3 linked regions of the Homo sapiens genome follow. The protein of the gene in region 3 purifies or fractionates together with the protein of the main gene of each other region. This does not show direct contact. Each region holds a gene or a part of one and is shown on either strand. Other genes may lie near its edges. The genes, in order: CPNE2, MINK1 and PRDM15.

Region 1 (3,500 bases), on a different chromosome or scaffold from region 3:
CTTCCTGAAGTCTACCCTAAGTCCCTCTGGCTGCACTAGTGGCCCAAGTCTTCAGGGAGGACCCTCACTGGGATGGGGGTGCAGAGGGAGCCAGCGGGGAGAGCCTTACGGTGAACATGAGCTGGCAGCCTCCCAGGATGTAGTCAAGGAAGGAGTAGTCTCGGTTTATCTGGAAGAAAGCGGATGAGTCAGTGGGTCCCCTTGACTTGGTCACACTCCCCATGGGGGAGTTGTTGCTCTATGTCCTGCAACCTCAGTAGGGACAAGGAGGTCAAAAAAAGCTGATGGGCCTGATCTAATTACAACAAAACCCAAATCTCTCTATAACAAAGCCTTCAGTGCAATGGTTCCTAATGGGTGGGGGACTCACAGAGACCCCCACACCCCACAGATACACAGACACATGCTGGTTCCAGGCAGGGTGCCAGGGCCCAGTGTCAGTTACCTGACACAGAGTGTCTCAATTTGTCACTGTTAGGTACTTACCTTCTCCTGGCCCTTATTAATCTACCTTTTTAACAAAGAGAAAGAGCAGGCCTCCAGCTCAAGGCCTTCCTCTAGAAGTTGTTTTGATGGTCTTTGTCTCTTTTTGGCAAAGAAGGCAGATCTTTTAATTTTGGTAGAGTTCTAATAATCTCTTTCTAAATAAATGTATTTAAGTTAAAAAAAAAAAAAAAGAGAAAAGAAACAGGCCAGGTATAGTGGCTCATTCCTGTAATCCTAGCAGTTTGGGAGGCCAAGGCAGGCAAATCACTTGAGGTCAGGAGTTCAAGACCAGCCTGGTCGACATAATGAAACCCCATCTCTACTAAAAACACAAAAATTAGCCAGGCGTAGTGGCATGCACCTGTAATCCCAGCTATTTGGGAGGCTGAGGCAGGAGAATCCCTTGAACCTGGAAGGCGGAGGTTGCAGTGAGCTGAGATCACGCCACTGCACTCCAGCCTGGGCAACACAGTGAGACTCTGTCTCAAAAACAAAAACAAAAAACAATAATACAGGGAAGAAAGACTGATTCAAAAAAATAAGTAAGGCAGGTGCCAGAAATTGTGAAAAGTGATGTGAATGATGGAAACTTCAGAAACAAGGACCATCCATCACAAGGCTGCAACCTGACATCTTGACCTTTAACGGAGTGCTTTTTTGTCGTGACACCACTGAATGTTCGTGTAAACCCTAGCCAGACGAGGCTCCAAATAAGGTGGGAGTCTGGGATCCACCTGCTGGTGGAGAGCAGCGGCCAGACTCCTGAGCTGTCAGGCCCTGAGCCCAGGTCTCTTGCTCTCCTGCCCCAGGCTGCCTTCCTTAATGTTCTGCCAGATCCAGCAGTTATTTGCCCACCAGGTCTTCTGGCCCCCACCCACAGCCTGGCCACTGCTGACATGAACTTCATTGCCTTTCTGGGCCTCAGTGGCCCCGGCTGTACCATGGGAGTCACAGTGACGCTGATGCCAGAGAGGACAGGGTGTCCCCACCCAATGTCCTCTGCCCCTTGCATGCCCACCGTGGGCGGCAGCAACTCGCAATGACAATTCTCCCACCAGGACAGGCCCTGGAAGGTCAGCTCGTGCCTTCCCTGGCCTCCACACAGGAATGTGAGAGAAGAGTAACCCTGGACATGCTCTGCCTCGTTAATATCTCCATTCCACAGATGAGGAGACTGAGGCCTGGTGAGGTGAAGCTCAGAAGGCCATAGGGCCAGGATGTGGCAGAGCCGGGATTTGAACACAGGCCTCGCTGGCTCCAGATCCAGTGCTCTGTCTGTCCCTTCTGTGTGGCCTGAAACCTGGCCCCTGGCTCGTGCTTGCCCACGCTGGTTCACCTTGCAGGATCGCAGGATGATGATGCCCGAGTTTTTATAGTTCTTCTTCTTCCTCTGCTTCTTGGGGTTGATGCACTCGAACTCCAGCTGGGCAACGCAAAAGAAAGAGACACTCACCTCGGGGCTTCTTTGGAAACAGATCCTCCTCCTTGGCCCTAGAATCCCTTCCACAGGCTTGACAATGGGGGCAGCATGCTTCCTCCAGGGAGCCTCCCAGGATGTCCACACCCAAAAATGGTAGCAGGATCAGCATCTGCCTCCCTCCTCCCCAGATAACGCACCCCCAAACTGTCCAGCTGAGGGCCCAACATCACGGAATGACTTAAATGGATAGCTCCTGACTGCTCACTATATGCTGGGCACTTCGCCTGCATCATCTCATTCAATCCCCACCCAAATCCTCTGCCCCCATTGACAGATGGAGAAACTGAGTCTTAGATTGAATGCCTTGCTCAAGGTCATGCAGCCAGAAGGGGGATCTCAGCCCCAGGCTGCCTGACCCAAGACCCGGTGCCCCTTCCCCCAGCCCTGCTGAGGTCTTGGGGTTACAGTACACGTGCCCATCTCACCGGGACGCTGTCTCGAGCCTCACACATCTGTGACACTGAGGTCTGGAACTCGCCGATGAAGTCATGGCCCCCGTCATTGTCATAGTCGTAGCACATGACCTGGGGTGGGTTCAGCACGGTCACCCCAGAGCTGTCCCCCAAGAGGTGCTCTCCAGCCCCTCTCAACTCCCCAAGCAAACCCTCTGTCTTCTGTTTGGGTAGTGCCTCTCCTCAGCATCTGCCTAGCTGGCCTGGATAGCTCCTGAACTGCCTCCTGCAGGAAGACTTCTGTGATTGCTGGGAAAAGGAGAAAGTGTGTCTGCCCCACTGATGGAGGCTGTACCCTCTAGTGCAGGCAACTCCACTCCTTATACACCTGGCAAATGGCTCCCCCTCCACCTCGGGTTGTGACCCACCCAGCTTATGGCCTGGGGCCCTCTCTAGACATATTTTTTTCTGAGATGAGCACAGAAATCACAGCTTTATATGCTGTCTGAGCTGCTATGGCCCTCCTAGGAGGAAGGCAGGGATTATTGTTCCCATCCCACTGATGGGTAAACTGAGGCCCTGAAAGAGATGTACCTGCCCAAAGTCTCACAGCAGCAGTAGCAGACCCAGTACTAGAACCTAAGATTCCTGGTATCCTACTTGGGAATCTCTGTCCTGACCTAGCTGTCTCCCCAGTCCCATCTGCTCTCAGACCCAGCCCCTGGGGACCAAGAGCTTTTATTTTTTATTTATTTGATTTTATTTTATAATTTTTTTTTTTTTTTGAGACGGTCTCTACTAAAGACCGTGAGAGGGTGGGTGAGAGGCCTCACGTGAGAGGCCAGGGTGGTCTCAATCTCCTGACATCGTGATCCACCCACCTTGGCCTCCCAAAGTGCTGGGATTACAGGCATGAGCCACCGCGCCCGGCCTATAACTTTTTTTTTTTTTTTTGAGACAGAATCTTGCTCTGTTACCCATGCTGGAGTGCAGTGGCTCAATCTGGGCTCTGCAACCTCCGCCTCCCACATTCAAGTGATTCTCCTGCCTCAGGCTCCTGAGTAGCTGGGACTACAGGCGTGCACCGCCATGCTCGGCTAATTTTTGTATTTTTAGTAGAGATGGGGTTTTCCCATGTTGGC
Region 2 (3,722 bases), on a different chromosome or scaffold from region 3:
TAATCCTTTTCTAAAGTCTTGACACAGTATTCTTCTGTCTCCTGCCCCTAGGACCCTGCTGGGATCTTTGAGCTTGTGGAGGTGGTCGGCAATGGAACCTACGGACAGGTGTACAAGGTGAGACGAATGGTGTGGAAGTATGACCTCCACATCTGCAGGGCAGTCTTGGGAGGAGTGGAAGGAAGTAGATTCCTGGTCTGCAGGTCTGAAGGGGGCTATGGGAGATGCTAGAGTCTAGGGCCCTGGAAAGGTAGAGTGGGGGAGAGGAAAGAGCACCCAGAAGGAGGTACTGTTGATGCCTCTCTCTACCTGAGTGCAGAGCCAGTCCCGGACATGGTGGGAACAGGCCAGCAGCCAGGCAGGGTGGCCTGCAGCAGTGAGAGCAGGTGGAAGGGCATACGGCCTTGTGTGTCAGAACTCTCCTGGGATTCAGAGAGAGCTAAGGCCAGAGATGTGGGTTTGGCCTCTCCCCAGACCACAAAGAGACCCAGGACTTTGAGGTAGTGGGACCTAATGGGTGGCCTTCTGCAGAGGGGATGTGGCCTCTGCTCCCACAGCTGGCCTGCTGGGGCCAGAGCTCAGGCTTTTGGCTTTTGAGCTGCCTCTGTCCCTGACAGAAGTGGCAGGTTCTCAGCCACTGATGGTAGCTTTTAGGTTGGCCAGCCCAGCCCTCTCGTGTGGCCTGACCACACTGCTCACACTTGGATGGGGGGAGCCACTCCAGCGGGGAGTAAGGTGGCCTGACCACTGCTCACACTTGGATTGTGGGAGCCGCTGCAGCAGGGAGTGAGGTGGCCTGACCACTGCTCACACTTGGATTGTGGGAGCCGCTGCAGCAGGGAGTGAGGTGGCCTGACCACTGCTGACACTTGGATTGGGAGGAGCCGCTGCAGCAGGGAGTGAGGTGGCCTGACCACTGCTGACACTTGGATTGTGGGAGCCGCTGCAGCAGGGAGTGAGGTGGCCTGACCACTGCTCACACTTGGATGGGGGGAGCTGCTCCAGCAGGGAGGGAGGATGCTCAGGGTGAATGCTGCCTCTGACTGGAGCCCCCTGGGGCCCGTGGCTTTTTCATCTCCAGACAGAGTGCTTGATACTGTCACAAGTCTCTTCTACATCTCTAGCCCCGTGTTTCCTGTGTCGCTGAGACCACCTGCCTTTCTCTTACACTCCTTCTCTTGCAAACTTTGGGGAAACAGGCACCCCACCCGCAATCTCTTGCCTTGTTGTTGCCATGGGAATAGTGGTGCCATGTGCTCCTGCGTCTCTGGGCTTGGGGTCTTGAATGGCTGAGGATAAAAATTACCCATGGGCTGGCAAAGCCAGTCCATCCCCATGAGGGGCCACCTTCCTCCATCCTGCTCGTCCCCAGGAAGCCTTTGGGCATTCCTCTCCAAGCCTTAGATGCTCCCACTGGGAATTTCAGAAGGATGTTGGGGGAGGAGGGCAATGGCTGGGGACACACTCAAGAAGAGGAAGTTTCTTCCCACTAGGGCTGGTGACAGGAGCATTAGCACATGTCGGCGGGCCCCTCTGTGTTTCTCTGAGTTCCCTAAAATCTCAGCTCTGTCTCTGTTCTTTCCCTATCGACAAGAATAAAAAGCTTTGTGGGTGAAGTTGATTCTGGGAGAGGCCTCCTGTCCAGAGTTGGTGAGTCAGGAAAGCACTGCAGCATTTTCTCTTGCTTAGGAGAAGAGGGTGAGGCAAAGCCCCTCCCTCCCTAGCCTCCTTCTCCTACTGCCTCCATCCTCCGTTAGGGTGGAGAAGTATCTTTCACGCCCTGCTCTAACTTTCAGACTGTAGAAAGTCCAAGCCAGAGAGGCTGGAACAGAACATAAATGTTTCTCCCTCATCTGTCTTGAGTTTTTATGGGAGGAGACCCTTCGCCTTTATTGAGCCTGTAACTTGGAAGTCCACTGTAGGTGGTTTTTCTGTTGGCCATGATGGCTCAGGAGCGCTCTCTGTCCACTCCCATGAGCAGCACATTCACTGAGGTGTGTAGCCACAATGAGGGGTACTTGCTTTTTTTCTTTTCTTTTTTTTTTTTTTTGAGACGGAGTCTTGCTCTGTCCCCCAGGTGGGAGTGCAGTGGCACAGTCTCGGCTTGCCTCCCAGGTTCAGGCAATTCTCGTGCCTCAGCCTCCTGAGTAGCTGGGATTATAGGCGCCCACCATGACACCCAGCTAATTTTTTGTATTTTTAGTGGAGATGGGGTTTCTCCATGTTGGCCAGGCTGGTCTCGAACTCCTGGTCTCAAGTGATCCGCCTGCCTCGGCCTCCCAAAGTGTTGGGATTACAGGCATGAGCCACAGCGCCCGGCTGAGGGGCACTTTGTAAGATAGAAAACAGTCGGGCCGGGCGCGGTGGCTCATGCCTGTCATCCCAGCACTTTGGGAGGCCGAGGCAGGCGGATCACGAGGTCAGGAGATCGAGACCATCCTGGCTAACACGGTGAAACCCCATCTCTACTAAAAATACAAAAAAATTAGCCGGGCGAGGTGGTGGATGCCTGTAGTCCCAGCTATCCGGGAGGCTGAGGCAGGAGAATGGCGTGAACCCGGGAGGTGGAGCAGGCAGTGAGCCGAGATCGCGCCACTGCACTCTAGTCTGGGCGACAGAGCGAGACCCTGTCTCAAAAAAAAAAGCTGTGTCTCCTAGAGTCAAGCCCTCTCTACGCTCCACCCTCTGAGCATAGACTCAGATCCCTCTGTCCCGCAGGGTCGGCATGTCAAGACGGGGCAGCTGGCTGCCATCAAGGTCATGGATGTCACGGAGGTAGGGAGTGGAGCTGGGCAGTGGGAGGGTCGGACCAGCGAGAAGGGAGTGTTGGGGGAGTCTCAGGGCTCAGCTCCTCCCATCTGCTTAGGACGAGGAGGAAGAGATCAAACAGGAGATCAACATGCTGAAAAAGTACTCTCACCACCGCAACATCGCCACCTACTACGGAGCCTTCATCAAGAAGAGCCCCCCGGGAAACGATGACCAGCTCTGGGTGAGAAACGCCCCCCTGCCCGCCTTCCCTCCCCGCAATCCCTGTCTCCGGGCTGTTCACTAGGACTCAGTATCAGTGCCCAGCATCTCTCCTTGCCAGCTACCCTCCCTCCGGTCTACCCAGCCTCCCCTGTCCCTGGACCCAGAGGGGCCTCCTGCCTCATGGATGGCCCCGCACTCCAGCCCCCATGAACTGCAGCATCTCATCCTTTGAGTGTTTTGTGGGGAGGGGTCCTGGCGTTTGCCCCAACCCTTCCCCTAACCAGTGTCTCACACTGTGCGATCGGCTCTTAATAAATAAATATAATCCTGGCAAAGGGGAGAGAGACCGTGGGGAGGCCGTCCATCCATTTTCCTGCCTTTGAGCACAGCTCCTGGGAAAGCAACAGAACCAAAATATTTGTGGGAGATAACAGGGCCCAGACCCCTCCCAGAACCCCAGATGCTACAGAGCACCCAGCCCTTCTGGGTCATCATTCAAAACAGAGCCTGCTGCAGAGCTTGGGGCCTCCCCCAAATTCCTCCTGCCTGGCCCAGAACATTCCTAAGAGTCATTCCCCTCCCTAGCCTGGGCACTGGTGCTGACATGTTCCCCCAGCCTCACCCTTTGTGGTACTGAGCCCAGTCCCTGAGGATGGAGCAGCAGGGAGTGTGGCAATGGCTGTCGGGAGTTTTGGCGCTGACGCCAGGTCTCCCCTCCCAACAGCCATTCAGAGAAGCACTTACTAAGC
Region 3 (3,722 bases):
GGCAGTGCTGGGGCTGCCCTGGCCGCTGCCTGACGTGACCGACTAACCTGGTTCTCGGCTGAAACCGATTTTTCTGCAGCCTGAGCTGACTCTGGAGCAGGAGGATTTGGCCGAAGGGAAGCACGGGAAAGCTGCCAAGCGAAGTCACAAGAGAAAGCAGAAGCCAGAAGAGGAGGCGGGTGCTCCGGTGCCCGAGGACGCCACCTTCAGCGAATACTCAGAGAAAGAGACGGAGTTCACAGGCAGTGTAGGCGACGAGACCAATTCCGCAGTACAGAGCATTCAGCAGGTCAGTTTGCTGCTTTATGTTCTGATTAGGTGCCGGTCACTTTCCCTAAGCATGAGAGCCTTACGTGTGTGTGACTCCATCTCTTTTTACTATACACAGTGTACATGTGGACTTCATGTGGTTGAAGGCAGCAGACATTCTGTTTTTCACTTAAGCATGTTTCATGTAAGCATTTCTGAGTTCTGACCTACAAATCATGCTTGTCATTGTTAGTAGCAACATATATTCTAGCATGTTGAAGAGAGATATCCCTGCCCGGGTGGCAATTAGGTAGGCTGTTTGCAGTTTGGGGAGGTCACGGGTGGCCTACCCAAGTGCCCTTATGGTGAAAGCTCAGCCCTGTGCATTTGCTGACTAGCCGGAGAGCAAGGATCCCTCAGTCTGGAAGGTGAAGACAATCCCACAATCCCACTTTCTCGAGTGGAACCTTCTGTCTTGCTCAGCCTTCGTCACTTTTGCTTTTGAAGCCTCTGAGTGTTTGATCAGTCTGTGTCTAATACTGCACTTCTCTCTCTTGTTTTGGGGGATGGTAATCTTGACTGCAAAAGTTCCTCATTTATTTGGCCTTTCATCCCTCTCCATGAAAGAGAATGCTTTCTCTTATTAGCGATTGGTACTGCAAATACCTTTATTGCTCTTTGTAGCTTTGTGGTGGGATTTTCATTTACCAACAGCAGGGCACTTCAGAGGAATGGATAGAAAAGGAAGCATCTGTTTTCCGTCTTTTTCGTGCTTACTTTTTTCTATTTTTTTCTAGCCAGTGAAATTAATTTGTTTCTTAGTTCCTTCTCATTGCTTTCATGATTGTGTCTGTTTCTTGTTTTTGTTTCTCGCTGGAATTTTTCCAGAACAAAATTAACTCGGTTTCCTCTTTCACCAAAGAATGTCGTGCTTCTTTGGTGTGGTAACACAGAGCGCATCCTGGGGAGGTCCTTGCGTTCCCCATTTTGCAAAAATGAACGGATTTTTGTTGTGTGTGAATCTTCCAGGTAGTGGTGACCCTGGGTGACCCAAATGTGACCACACCATCGAGCTCAGTCGGCTTAACCAACATCACCGTGACCCCCATCACCACTGCGGCCGCGACTCAGTTTACCAATCTCCAGCCGGTGGCCGTGGGGCACCTTACCACCCCTGAACGCCAGTTACAGCTGGACAACTCAATCCTGACCGTGACCTTTGATACCGTCAGCGGCTCTGCCATGTTGCACAACCGCCAAAATGACGTCCAGATCCACCCCCAGCCGGAAGCCTCGAACCCACAGTCTGTGGCCCATTTCATCAACCTGACGACCCTGGTCAACTCCATCACGCCCCTGGGGAGCCAGCTTAGTGACCAGCACCCGCTCACGTGGCGGGCAGTGCCCCAGACTGACGTCTTGCCACCCTCGCAGCCGCAGGCACCCCCACAGCAGGCGGCCCAGCCCCAGGTGCAGGCGGAGCAGCAGCAGCAGCAGATGTACAGCTACTGAGCTGCGTTCCGGGAGACTCGGGGCAAGAACTGCAGAGGGATGTTTGGGATTTGTTTAGATGTGTTTGCTGGATACCAAACAAACAAAAAGTCATACATTGCAATGTAAGGTTGACTTAGCTTTGCAGAGTATCTCCAGATCCCCCGCCAGCAACCATTACGGTCTGTCAGCTTAACTCTAGAAGGGACCTCTGGCAGGCCAGAGTTTTAAACTGGATGGGGCTCCACACCATGCCTTACCAAGGCAGTAAGTCCTGGGCCGGGGCCGCATCTGCCTCCCCTTACAGAACCAGTGTTCGCCCGACACAGGGTTCGGGAAAGTGAAGCTGAGAGAGAAGCAGGATTTTAAGAGGCAGGAGATAAGTTATTAGGAACACAAATGGTTCATTTTCTTTTTTCTTTTAGAGCTCGGTTCCTATGAGAACACAGACAGTATTCACAGGTGGCAGCAGGCAGCAGGGAACATTTTCTCCTCACTTCTGGATTTTTTTGCAAGCGAGCACATAGAAGTTAAAGTAACGTGTATTCTCTTTGAACTAGGAGTGGAGTCGGTTCTTATACAACTATGGGCTGAAACCATGAGGCGTGCTGAGCCGCACCTGATCCTGCAACCTTCGAGGTCATCACGGTCATCATGTGCAAGGGGTCACGTGAGGTCACTGACTCCAGCTCAAAACGCATCTTAGTAATATCCATGAATCGATTTCCAATAGAGTTTTTTTCCTTTTTTTTTTTTAACTTTATTTCAAACATACATTATGTGTTCAAGACTGTTATGGCCAATATTGTGTTTTAGTTTTATGTTAACATGATAAAGTCATGTGCACTGTAGGACCATCTGTCCCTGTCCACCCTTCACAGCTGCCCAGATGCAGAGGGTCGCGCGGCTGTGTGTGAGGAGTGAGCCTCCCTGCTGCCCCCAGGGGCTCCTCCGGGTTGTCTCAGGATTCTCTGCAATCCAAATGTATCCATTCTGGCTGAAGCCCAGCCAGAATCCCGAGTGGAAGAAACGGGGGAAAAGTCATATTTTCCTTCTGTTTAAACTTCAATTCCAAAGGTTGGTGTATTTCATGACCAGTTTTCTATAAAAATATTGAATGAGTTTGGCTCTTTACAATGGAAAAGTGTAGGTATTTCTGAAACACAGAGAAAATGCTATTTCCTGCCAGGTGGTAATGAAAGCAGAGAGGTTAGTTCACTAATAGAAGCATTAATTGCCCCTAAAACTGAATGTGCGGTGAACAGCCAGGTCTGCGTGTGCGGGGACACGTGCTGTCACGTCTGTGTACCAGTTTCGGGGGCAGGGGCCAGGGTTGGGGGAGGCACCCAGCCCTCCTGCTGCCCACGACAAGAAACACTGAGAGGTGTGGGGAGAAGTTTGCTCTTAACTTTCCTGGTACTCTGTTTGTGGCCACAGTGAGAGGACAAACCTGCCTTAAGGTGTCCTGCTTTGCCAGTTATCCCAGATCCTGCACTCACTGGGAGTCCATCTTGAGGAAACACTGGCATGGCTGAGTAATTGATCAGGAGCAGTCCTGATGTTGCCAGCAGAACAAAGGATGATTGTGTTTTTCAAAACGCAACTTTCTCAGCACTTCACTCCAAACAGCAGACTTTTGAGGACAGGGCTGGAATTTGTTTTGTGCAATATATGCCTTCATGAACTAAGGAATGTTCATCCCCAGGCAGCATGCAGGAGGGTCTGTGGGGCTCACCTCCTCACCTTACCCACCATCACTCGCGCCTAGCTCTCACCTCTCAGTTGAATGAATAGTGGGAGATCATTTGACTTTTAATTTATGAGAATTATTTTATGTTATTTATGTATATAATTAACTGTTTTATACATAGTAGTCTCATCAAATGAATTCGGGCTTGGGGTGATATTGTCTCCATTCTCCAGATACAAGTGCTCCAGGCATCCATGGAATCAGCAGGAGACCAGGGCTCCTAAGATATATT

The links.
Region 1: the proteins of PRDM15 (region 3) and CPNE2 fractionate together in Homo sapiens (co-fractionation; one large-scale study listed by BioGRID). This does not show direct contact.
Region 2: the proteins of PRDM15 (region 3) and MINK1 fractionate together in Homo sapiens (co-fractionation; one large-scale study listed by BioGRID). This does not show direct contact.

The regions. Positions count from the first base shown.
Region 1 is NC_000016.10:57,120,083-57,123,582, reverse strand, and holds part of CPNE2 (copine-2), read right to left. Parts: intron 2,491-3,500; coding exon 2,392-2,490; intron 1,910-2,391; coding exon 1,823-1,909; intron 170-1,822; coding exon 110-169; intron 1-109.
Region 2 is NC_000017.11:4,878,266-4,881,987, forward strand, and holds part of MINK1 (misshapen-like kinase 1), read left to right. Parts: intron 1-51; coding exon 52-117; intron 118-2,718; coding exon 2,719-2,775; intron 2,776-2,848; exon of another isoform or gene 2,849-2,866; coding exon 2,867-2,992; intron 2,993-3,722. UniProt on the Homo sapiens protein: Serine/threonine kinase which acts as a negative regulator of Ras-related Rap2-mediated signal transduction to control neuronal structure and AMPA receptor trafficking.
Region 3 is NC_000021.9:41,799,279-41,803,000, reverse strand, and holds part of PRDM15 (PR domain zinc finger protein 15), read left to right. Parts: intron 1-79; coding exon 80-289; intron 290-1,278; coding exon 1,279-1,761; 3' UTR 1,762-3,722. UniProt on the Homo sapiens protein: Sequence-specific DNA-binding transcriptional regulator. Plays a role as a molecular node in a transcriptional network regulating embryonic development and cell fate decision.